Homo sapiens: one gene and its partners. The protein of the gene in region 3 purifies or fractionates together with the protein of the main gene of each other region. This does not show direct contact. Each region holds a gene or a part of one and is shown on either strand. Other genes may lie near its edges. The genes, in order: FIRRM, ZER1 and MGARP.

Region 1 (3,753 bases), on a different chromosome or scaffold from region 3:
GAACGATCCCTTGAACCCGTGAGGCAGAGGCTGCAGTGAGCCAAGGTCATACCACTGCACTCCAGCTTGGGTGACAGAGTGAGACGCCATCTCAAAAAAAAAAAAAACAAATGACATATAACTGTTAGGTCCTGAGTACTATTAATCTTATAATTTAGGACTACTATAGTTAAATAAAATTGAGGGCTAGTCTGAAAGCAAAAGGTACTATGTATAACAGTGTTACAGGAAAATGAGTTATAATTCCCAATAATCGTACTACAAATTTTTAGAATATAATGTTTCATAAATGGGATACCAATTCAACACTCTAACTTTTCAAAATAAAAACAAATGTATGACTATATCAAATTTAAAAGACTGATACATACATATACATGCACAAACATACTTGTATCCCTAAAGGTCGCAATGCGTTGGTGAAGAAAAAATGCAAGATTGATTGCAGCTATATCAGATCTTATACAAATATGAACAAAAGAATTTTTGTTCTCATGCAGAAAAGAATGAAAGGATTCTGAGAAGAATGCTGTGACCAACCAGTTACCAAGCAAAGAGGGAGCCAGGCAGACCCCAGAGGCAATGACAGCAGTTAGGAATCTAATACAATGCTCTGGGTGAAAAGTAATTATGGGATATAAATAATCCCACAGATCAAAAAAAAACACCCAAATGAAATAAATTAAAATCCTCTTAAATAGACTGACCCAGACATTCAAATGAGATTTACTAACTGCCAAAGAAAATAAGAGTTGCTGTTTAAAATGCTATTAGCCCAAATTTTACCTGTGCATCTGACTGTGTCATCTGCTCAGCTAACTGTAAACAAGAATGGAAGGAGAAAAGAATGTCTTCACACAAGCTAGTAATTATATCTTTGTGTTTCAACTGGCTTTTTATTATGGACTGGTGCTTAAGGCTCTGCCTAAATGAATAAAAAGAAAAGAATACAATCACCACAAGTAACACATCAAGTAACTTAGGACCTCTAACAATATCTACCTTGTAGAACATTTAAAAAAACAATCAAAAAGCATCATATATCACATAATATAACTAAGATGTGCCCAGTTTACCTCTGAAGCAGTTATATTTGTTTAAATAAGTTGCTAATTTTTTCTCTGTGTAAAATATTAATTGAATTCTTACTATGTATGAGGCATTCTACCAGGCCCTGGAGACAAAGGGGTCAAACAAATGGACACAATCTCCGCCTTACCTGCATGAAACTTGTGGTCTAGCATGAGAGAGAATGTTAAATAATTTTAAGAATAATTAATTAGGGCTGTGATTTGTCAAATGACAGAGTCTAAGGTGCTACAATAGAGAGACCTAATCTAACTTATTCTTAGGGTAAGGATATCAATCTAACTTAATCTTAGGGTAAGGATATCAAAGAATGTTATCATGAAGATATAACTCTTAAGCTGAGAACTGAAAGACAGTAAGCAGGAGTTAGCAAGGTACACAAAATAGGAGAGAGAAGCATCCTAGGCAGATGGAAAAACCACGAAAAGACTCTGGGACAGGAGAGTTTGGTATGTTTGAGGAACTAAGAGTAGGGAGAGCAGCATGAGACAGGCTGGTGAAGGAGGCAGCATCCACAGAGGATTAGGTTGTTATTCTTAATCAAATGGGATAGACTTCAAGCAATAGAGTAACATGATCTGATTTACTTTTTAAAAGATCATTCTGCTGGGCAGAAAATGAACTGGAAGAGGGTAAGAGTGGAAGATAATCAGTGATGATGATAGTGATGTGGCTAATTCCTTGAGTATTAACTATGTGTCATGCACATTTCTAAGCATTTCACAGTGATGAACTCAATTCTCACTATAACCCTGTCAAGAAGTTGCTATTATTATTTCCATTTTCAGATGAGCAAACTAACGTTCAGAGAAATTAACCAAATAGCCCAAGGGCTCAGAAGGAGTAAATGATTTCAAGAATGGATTTAAGCACATGTGATACAGCTCCCAGGCAACACTCTTAACCACTGAATGGCAACTTAATGTCCTGGTAGTACAAGAAAAGTACCTAAGACCTGAAAATACACTGACCTTTAATGTTTTATGTATGTGTATAAAGTAGATATTCTTAACCATTTTTACATCTCAACCACATCTCCTCTCACCCCTAAGAATCTGATGAATGCTACAGGCACTATCCCTGGTGACCCTTTAAAATGCTTCAGTTTCAGAAAGTTAAAATTACTGTACAAATGGAATTAAGTGTGAACAACTTAAAAGTACCTAATGAAAAGATTATATTCAGTTTTAATTATAGTTATCAATTTATCTAATCCTAGAAATAGGATACTTGATAGCTGGTTAAACAACAGTAGCAGAAGAAAAGTGGTTAAGTTCTAGTCTGGCCCATGGCCCATTATTTCTGAAGTACTAGCTAACTAGGAAGAACATTTTTTTTAATTTTAGAGGCCACAGGGTAAAGAAGTCCAATTTGGCTTGAGAGCTACATGTAGAATATCTGGATTATCAGACAGCAGTGTCAGTGAACATTAAATTCACACAAAATGTTTTAAATGCAATCTAAAGAATCATGAATAATTAAGATTGGGGAATATGGAAAACATTTTCTAAAAAGTAAAAAATAACAAACAAACTTACTTAATTATAAACTTCCAAGTATTGGCATGAAATGCATGGTCCATACTGGAAATAACAGAGCAGATATCCAATAAAGAATGAATAACTGCAAAGAAAGATAACAGAACTTTTAAGACATCCAAATGTCATGGGGGTGAGTTTCTCCTATAATTAAAACTATCTACTGAACAATTTCAACATTTGATTGAATTAAAATACGTAACACAACTTGGAAACAGTTGTGTCAAAAGAATTATTTAAACTATTTAAGTGTCACACTTGTTAATGGTTTTTATAAATATTGAATATTAACTTCTGAAGTTTATACCTACCAGATGACCTAAATAAAACTAAAGATGTTCAGTGGAATAAAAGTTGTACCCTATTATAACTGAAATATTCTACAGATATAATTCTAATCCAAAATGACAAAACAAATTGCTAAGGAAAGAAAATCTAAAAAGGAAGAATTCAAATTAATATCCATGGTATTCATGCAAGGCTTTTACTCAGTCTGTGGTAGATTATTTATAAAAATGGCCACAATGACTGCCCTTTGTGAATCCACACTTTTCTACAATGACTCTGGGCTAAACGCTATGACCTGCTGTGGCCCGGGGGACAATAATAAAATTAAGGCAAGCAGAAACTTGAAAAGTGCTAGCACACAGCGACCTGCTCACACTTTTGCTACTCTTAGAAACCCTGAAACCACTGGCATCAGGTATCTGAGATAGGGTGAACCTGCTGGATGATGCACATGGCTTTCTCAAGTACTTCTGCCTCTGCCAACAGCCAGATGTGAATGAAGTCACTGAAGTCACATGGGTGAGCTAGTGCCCCAGGTGGATCAGAGAAAGTTGTCTCAGGACATCCCACCCTAAACTGCAGACTCACAGAATCATGAATAAATAAATAGTGAATAAATAGATTTTGAGGTGGTGTGTTGCAGAGCAACAGGTGCCTGATACACTGCACAAAACCAACTTACTCTCTTTATACCAAAGTTTTGAATGCAAACTTTGCCTTTATATTGTTTTTCAAACTCTTGTTCATAATCCATTAATGAGTGATAAAATCAATGAAGTGTGTTACGACCAGCAATTCTTTAAAAATAAACTAGTATTGGCTGGGCACGGTGGCTCAT
Region 2 (3,753 bases), on a different chromosome or scaffold from region 3:
CTTACCTGCGGGTGGGACACGCTCAGAACAACCCAGCAGAGGCCAAGGGCTGGGATGCCAGATCCCAGCTCAGTCTCCAGCCCCAGAATCCAGCTCCTTCTCTCTCCCAAGGCTCCCTGGCCCAGACCCATCCCACTTCCACTGCTCACTTTGTAGGCTGGAATGTGCGTGAGGCGGCACAGAGAGTTCTCAAAGAGCCCGAGGAACTGCAGCGGCCTCTTCAGAGCCCGGAAAGGTATGATGCTGCTCTTGGAAGGCTCAATGCTGGGGAAAGAGGGTGCCGGTGTCAGTGGCTTGGGACCCAGGCCTGAGCTGGGCCTCCCCACTGGGGGTGGTGAGGCATTTCCTTGCTTTCTCTTCTAGGCCCTCCAACCTCATCCCCTACTCCTTTTGTTTTTAATGGTAGGGGACATAAGCACCACCTCCTGATGGAAGCATGGCAAAGCCACATAGTAGGGGAACACATAGGATGGGCAATGCAGCCACCTTTAGAAACCACCTGCCATTCTAGTAAGGACATGGCACCTTTAGGTCTCACCAACAATCACAAAGGGACAAGCTCAACTGAACACCATTAAAGCAGGCTGGGGCCAGGGCTTATGGGTGGCCAGTTACAGCTGGTAGGGTTTGGTCAAACTTCTCAACCAACCAATCCAAGAACCGACCTATGTCCAGCAATACTCCATAGGTGGCAGACACTGCCAGCCTTGCCTCTTCCCCCCATGGCACTGTGCTCTGGTCAGGCTGAGTGTTGGGTAGTTCCCCTGTCGCTCCTCATGCTCTCACCTACTGGCCTTTGCAGGTGCTGTTCCCTCTGCTAGAACACGCTTCCTCTGGCAGAGGCAGAATGAGCTTTCAGGACAGCCAGGATGCGTCCCTCCTCCTCCTTCCTTCCTGATCCTCAGGCCACACCGGGGCCCTGGATTGCCCCTACCATAGCCCTTGTAATGACTTGATTGTCCCCACCAGCTCACACAGCCTCCAAGAGGGCAGGACCTGATTTGTTTCTTTATCTCTAGCACCCAGCACAGCACTTGGCAGAGGGGTACTTGGCAAATACTTTCTTTTTTTTTTTTTTTGAGACAAAGTCCCACTTTGTTGCCTAGGCTGGAGTGCAGTGGCGCGATCTCAGCTCACTGCAGGCTCCGCCTCCCGGCTTCAATTCTCATACCTTAGCCTCCCAAGTAGCTGGGACTACAGGTGTCTGCCACCATGTCCAGCTAAATTTTGTATTTTTAGTAGAAATGGGGTTTCACCATGTTGGCCAGGCTGGTCTCTAACTCCTGGCCTCAAGTGATCCGCCCATCTTGGCTTCCCAAAGTGCTGGGATTACAGGCGTGAGCCACTGCGCCAGCCTAAATGCCTGTTGAATGACACCCTACCAGTAGCCATGGAGGCTGGGGCCCCACCTGGTCTGCCCCGCTTCCTCTTCCATCTTGGAGATGCTGCAGTTCTCTAGGATCATGTGGCCAGAGATGTCCAGGGACATTAGGTTCCCCAGCTTCTGCACAAAGAGGCTCAGCACCTCCCGAGTCAGCTTGAACTTGTAGTAGCTGGAGAGGCGGTCTCGGGAGATGTCCAGGTGTCTGAAGATTGGGGTAGGGGGTGCAGGTTAGGAGCTGGGTACAGGGTGGGGCTGCCTTGCAGATCCCAGCTCCTTTAGTCTGTAGCAGGGGAGGGCCCATTCCTGCCACAACTTCCCCAGGGCATTCTGGGAAGAAACCCCAAACAGCCCCAATCCAGCTGAAACACTGGGTTTAAGGAATGGGACTGTGTCTTCATCCCCACCCTCTGCCTAGCCAAGCGCTCCTGAACCCTGAGGGCGTGACAACACCCACCTCTACTCCTCCCCACCTGCCCCCCAAACCCCACCCTGGTGAGCTCTGGGCCAGGAGCTCACCGCAGCTTGTGCAGCTGCACGATGACCCGGATGTGGTCGTCGGACAGGTCCATGTTGTAGAGGACGAGGGACACCAGGCTGTCTTTCCACTGGGTGAGGAAGGCGGCGTCGCTCGTCTGAATGCCTGAGAGGTCCAAGGCAGCCAGGGAGTTAAGCGGCCGCAGCAGGGACTCCACAGGGACCCAATCAATCATGCGGCCCAAGTTGAGGAAGCGGAGGCGGCTGAAGCCCTCGAAGGTGAAATCCTTAACCAGCACCTGGCAGGTGGGGTTGACGAGGTACTCATCTTCACAGCCCCCTGGGTTCTCCTCCTCATAGAAAATGTTTGTACAGCCGAAGAGGCTCAAGGACACCAGGGTGTGGCTGAAGCTCCTCAGTGTCTGCAGGCTCTTGGCGGACAGCTTCTCGCAGTTAGTCAGGTACAGCTCCACCAGGTCCTGGGAGTGGGCACAGCTCCATCATCATCACCACCCTTGCCCCTTCCCCCGGCCCCAGGCCTTGCCCTGGGCTACAGGTGGGTTGGAAAGGGGGATGTGCACAGTCACGGTGCACACTGGCTGGGCTGGGGATGGCTGGGCTGGAGGCGAGCAGCCTGGCCCCTGCTTGGTGTGGGCCCTCCTGGCGCTGTGGCGGGGCAGGTCTCACCTGCTTGCGGATGGCCTCCAGGTCCTGGTCCTGCACCAGGTCCTCACGGAGGTGGATCCGCGTGAGGCGGGTGCTGCGGGGGTCCGAAAAGAGGCTGAAGAAGCTCTCGTGTGGCTCGAAGTTACAGGCAGCGTTCACCAGCTCCACATACCTGGGAGAGAAAAAAGCCTGGCTCAGGAGAGGGCCACAGGGACTCTCATCCTCGCTTCAAAGCCAAGCCCTCCTCCCCCTGAAGCTTTCTTGGATCACCCCAAGTAGCAACCTCCTTCTCCTAAGAGTATCTGGTCAGATCCTGACTAAACTACCAGTAAGATTAAGGGTGCCCAGGAACCAGGAATCTAAAGGCAGCTCTCTGGGAGACCTTCTAGGTGATGCAGGCGCCATCTCTCCCAGTGCACATGCCTGTCACACAGCCTCCACGCACGCACACTGCAGGGGCAGCAGCCCCACTGGCATGGCCACTCTCGTCACCTTCTTTAAGCCCCTCCTGCGACCCTTTTAAACAGGCAAACTAAGCCAAGTAGTTCAGAGTTCCCAGCTGGGTACAGGACAAGCCCTTAATGAAGCCCTGTTGAGACATCAGCTCATGCAAGAATCCTGGTCTGCTGGGAAATGCTTTGGATTCAAACGCTTTAGACTCTAAATCTTGGCTTGGCTGCTTCCTACCTGGGCAACTTCACACAAGTAAATGAACTTTCCCAGACCTCAGTTTCTTCATCTGTAAAGTGGATATAACTATGGCCTGCAAAGTGTCCAACCTAAAGCCTGACCCACGGTAAATGCTCAGGACGTTATTACAGGTCCACCTCTGTCCTCAGGCCCACACAGGCTTCTAGTTTCCTATGCAGCTGTCTAATAATTTCCCTTCTGGGAATCTTTTTCTTTTTTTTTTTTTGGTAGAGACAAGGTCTCGCTATGTCACCCAGGCTGATCTTGAATTTCTGGTCTCAAGTGATCCTCCTGTCTTGGCTTCCCAAAATGCTGGAATTACACGTGTGAGCCACCATGCCTGGCCACCATCTGGGCCTGTAGATTGAACTCCCAGCATTCAGTGACTGCATAGCATGCTTCTAGGAGCCCCTAGGAGTGGGGAGGCCCTCGGAGGGCCATTCAGATTTTCTGGATGATTCACTCCCTGATCATGGATCCGTTATTCTGGCACCGGCATGTACATGCATATGTGGCCATGCTCACTGAATTCACAAGCA
Region 3 (3,753 bases):
TCTGGCTCTCTCACCCAGCCTGGAGTGCAGTGGCACAATCTCAGCTCACTGCGACCTCCACCTCCTGGGTTCAAGTGATTCTCCTGCCTCAGCCTCCTGAGTAGCTATGATTACAGGCACCTGCCACCATGCCTGGCTCATTTTTGTATTTTAGCACAGATGAGGCTTCACCATGTTGGCCAGGCTGGTCTTGAACTCCTGACCTCAGGTGATCTGCCCACCTTGACCTCCCAAAGTGCTGAGATTACAGGCGTGAGCCACCATGACTGGCCTACTTTTATTCTTAATAAAGATTATATTTTGATTTAGAAAGTTTATGACAAAATGGTGAATGACTCAAGTCTTAACTTACTTAACTAAAAAATGTCTGTCATTTTAGTCCCAAAATCTCACTATTAAAACCTTTGTCTTACAGGGTTTACCTGGAGGGAATGGACATGGGGACTGGGAAGGAAAATATGCTTTTCACTTTATATATGTCTATGTTGCATTTTTTAGAAACTTATGAACAAATATGAATTTTTCAAATAATAAAACTGTGTGAAAATTTAAAACTAACAAAAATTATGGAGACAGTAAAAAGATTGGGAGGAGAGAGGGAGAAATGAGTAGGTGGAGTAGAGGGATTTTTAGGGTGATGAAACGACTCTGTATGATACTATAATTTATTCTGGATGATATTGTAATATATTTGTAAAAACAGAACATACAACGCAAAGAGTGGATCCTAATGTAAACCCTGGACTTTAGTTAATAATAATATATCAATATTGGCTTGTCAGTTTTAACAAATGTTCCACATCAGTGCAAGATTTTAATAGGGGAAAGGAGGAGGGGGTGTGAGGGGTTATATGGAAGTTTCTGTACTTTCTGCTCATTATTTTGTAAACCTAAAACTGCTCTAAAAAAAGATCTATTAATTTTTTTAATAGTTATATTAATTTTTTTAAATTTTTTTTGGAAACAGAGTCTCACTCTGTTGCCCACACTGGAGTGCCATGATGTGATCTTGGCTCACTGCAACCTCAGCCTCCTAGGTTCAAGAGATTCTCTTGCTTCAGCCTCCCAAGTAGCTGGGATTACAGGCACACACCACCATGCTGGCTAATTTCTGCATTTTTAGTAGAGATGGGGTTTCCTCATGTTGGCCAGGCAGGCCTCGAACTCCTGACCTTAGGTGATCCACCTGCCTCAGCCTCCCAAAGTGCTGGGATTACAGGCGTGAGCCACTGCACCCAGCTCCTATATTAATTTTTAAGTTAATCTTTCAAAATAATTCTTTTAAAATGTTAATAATAGTGCCTACCTTGTAGACTTGTTGTAATTATTAAATGATCCAGGAGTCTGGCATATGATAAACACTCAAGTATCAGCTATCACTATTAGCATTTATAATAAAATTATTTTTACTGAAAATCATCCATATTAATGGTATTAAGAAATGCTGACTTTACAAATACAAAAATCTTCATAATTTAGAAAGCTGAGGTTCGAATGAAATAAAACTTAAAAATAAACTAAAAAAGAAAAACCTTCATAATAGTCTAGCTAATATATTCTTATGAAAACCCTGTATTTCTAATGATTGCCACCTATTTTTCAGATGTGTATGCTTAATGACACTTAAATCTATTGCTATGTTGTATATTTAATTAATCTCATGTCCTGATCTTGACGTTGCTTTGAGCTTTACCATGAGTTGTAAAATACATGAATTCTTGAGCACTGTGGTTATATAATCACTTACATAATATCCACCAGCACTGACTGTGACGCCTACAACCAGATAATAAATCATATTTGATCCAGATGATCCAGGGAATCTGTTAGATGACATCCGGCGCAGAGATGCTAGGAAAAAAATGTTTAAACACAGTTAGCTTCACTAGTTGAGCAAAACTATTTTAAATAATTACATCTTTCAAAATTTTTCTACTCAGTGAACCTAGAATCTATTAACATCAAGTGATTTTAGCTTAAGGGAATACAGTATTACGAGGCTGGGTAATAATTCCACTTGACAGTCTCCCAATCTAATTTGATAAACACTCATGAAACCTGTCATCTTGATGCTGAGCATCATGCCTTCTTGGAAGGGGTGCAGGTGTGGGTAAGGAGAAATGACAAAAGCACTAAAAAATTTTAACAGCCAAATGAAGTGCACATTAGCAAGAGAAAGCCATGTACTATATGTACTCCACTACAGGATTCAGTGAAAATATTATTTTTTAAAAAATGAATTCAGTATGTTTATACCTAAAATGTAATACAATTTGTATTTATATGTTAAATCAAGCATTTATGTTGAAATCCATCATATTTCTATAAATCTATAATACACATGTAGGTATAGAAAGAAATCTCAATTTTTCTCTTATAAAGCAAATATGGGCAGATAAAACGTTTTTAAGCCAAATGTTGCAGAAAGGTTGTATCTGAAATAGAAGTACAATTCTGTATAAACTAATAGAAACAGATAAAGGTACTATATTATTATATTTAAACATTTATTTTGTAGTACTAACATTTGCATATCCTATAATGCCCTGGAATTGAAATTTTTACAATAAACTTAAAGTCGGAAGGAGCTTAAAGTATATACAACTCAAATTCTTTATTTTAAAAATAAAGACATAAACACATTTATGTATTCTTTCAACTAACACAGCTGAGCATCTACTACGTATTTGGAATTGTTAGAAGCATTAAGAATATAACCGTGAACAAGACAGATAAGGTCCCTAGTCTCAAGCCATTCACAGTCTAGAAGGAGGGTATGAACATACAAATAATTGTGATACAGTATGACAAATGTAATAAGTGTTAAGCCAAGCTACAGGCAGAGTAAAACTCAACTAGCTGGCCAAGGTAGTTGTCATAATAGAAGAGACCTGAGTTTTGAAGGAAAATAAGGGAAAGAGGAATGGCACTGGAGGCAGAAGGTGTAACGTATAAAAGCATGAGAGATTCGTGACCCAGAAGGTACAAAGTACAGGATGAATATCCCTTATCTAAAATGCTAGCAGTGGGTGCAGTAGCTTATGCCTGTAATCCCAACATTTTGGGAGGCAGAGGTGGGAGGATCACTTGAGCCCAGGATTTCAAGACCAGCCTGGGCAATGTGGTGAACCCCATCTCTACAAAAAAATTTTATAATATTAGCTGAGAGTGGTGGTATGTGCCTGTAGTCCCAGCTACTTTGGGAGGCTGAGGCAGGAGGATCACTTGAGTCCTGCAGTGAGCTGTGATTGTACCACTGCTCTCCAGCCTGGGCAACAGAGAAAGGTTCTGTTCCAAAAAAATAATTAAAATAAAATAAAATGCTTGGGACCAGAAGTGTTTTGGGTTTTGGATATTCTTTATTTTGGAATATATGCATACACATAATGAGATATCTTGGGGATGGGACTGAAGTCTAAACAAAAAATTCATTTATGTTTCGTATACACCTTACACACATAGCCTGAAGGTAATTTCATACAATATTTTGAATAATTTTGTGCTTGAAACAAAGTTTGTGTTAAGTACTTACATGTGAAATTTTCTACTTGTGGCATCATGTCAGTGCTCAGAAAGTTTCTAATTTTGGAACATTTTGTGTTTTAGATTTTTGGATTAAGCATGTCCAACCTGCAATTTGATGTGGCCTAACATAAAGTATAGGGGTGCAGGGACTAGTGGAAAGCTATGATTTGCACAGGGCGAATCTTAAGGCATGCTTACAAACCTTCATAGTAGCAAAATCACAACGAT

The links.
Region 1: the proteins of MGARP (region 3) and FIRRM purify together in Homo sapiens (co-immunoprecipitation; 2 studies listed by BioGRID and IntAct, with this or other methods). This does not show direct contact.
Region 2: the proteins of MGARP (region 3) and ZER1 purify together in Homo sapiens (co-immunoprecipitation; 2 studies listed by BioGRID and IntAct, with this or other methods). This does not show direct contact.

What each region holds. Positions count from the first base shown.
Region 1 is NC_000001.11:169,804,963-169,808,715, reverse strand, and holds part of FIRRM (FIGNL1-interacting regulator of recombination and mitosis), read right to left. Parts: intron 2,713-3,753; coding exon 2,628-2,712; intron 926-2,627; coding exon 787-925; intron 1-786. UniProt on the Homo sapiens protein: Regulates PLK1 kinase activity at kinetochores and promotes faithful chromosome segregation in prometaphase by bridging kinase and phosphatase activities.
Region 2 is NC_000009.12:128,751,264-128,755,016, forward strand, and holds part of ZER1 (protein zer-1 homolog), read right to left. Parts: intron 2,697-3,753; coding exon 2,546-2,696; intron 2,338-2,545; coding exon 1,901-2,337; intron 1,587-1,900; coding exon 1,410-1,586; intron 265-1,409; coding exon 150-264; intron 6-149; coding exon 1-5. UniProt on the Homo sapiens protein: Serves as substrate adapter subunit in the E3 ubiquitin ligase complex ZYG11B-CUL2-Elongin BC. Acts to target substrates bearing N-terminal degrons for proteasomal degradation with the first four residues of substrates being the key recognition elements.
Region 3 is NC_000004.12:139,273,542-139,277,294, forward strand, and holds part of MGARP (protein MGARP), read right to left. Parts: intron 1,852-3,753; coding exon 1,748-1,851; intron 1-1,747. UniProt on the Homo sapiens protein: Plays a role in the trafficking of mitochondria along microtubules. Regulates the kinesin-mediated axonal transport of mitochondria to nerve terminals along microtubules during hypoxia.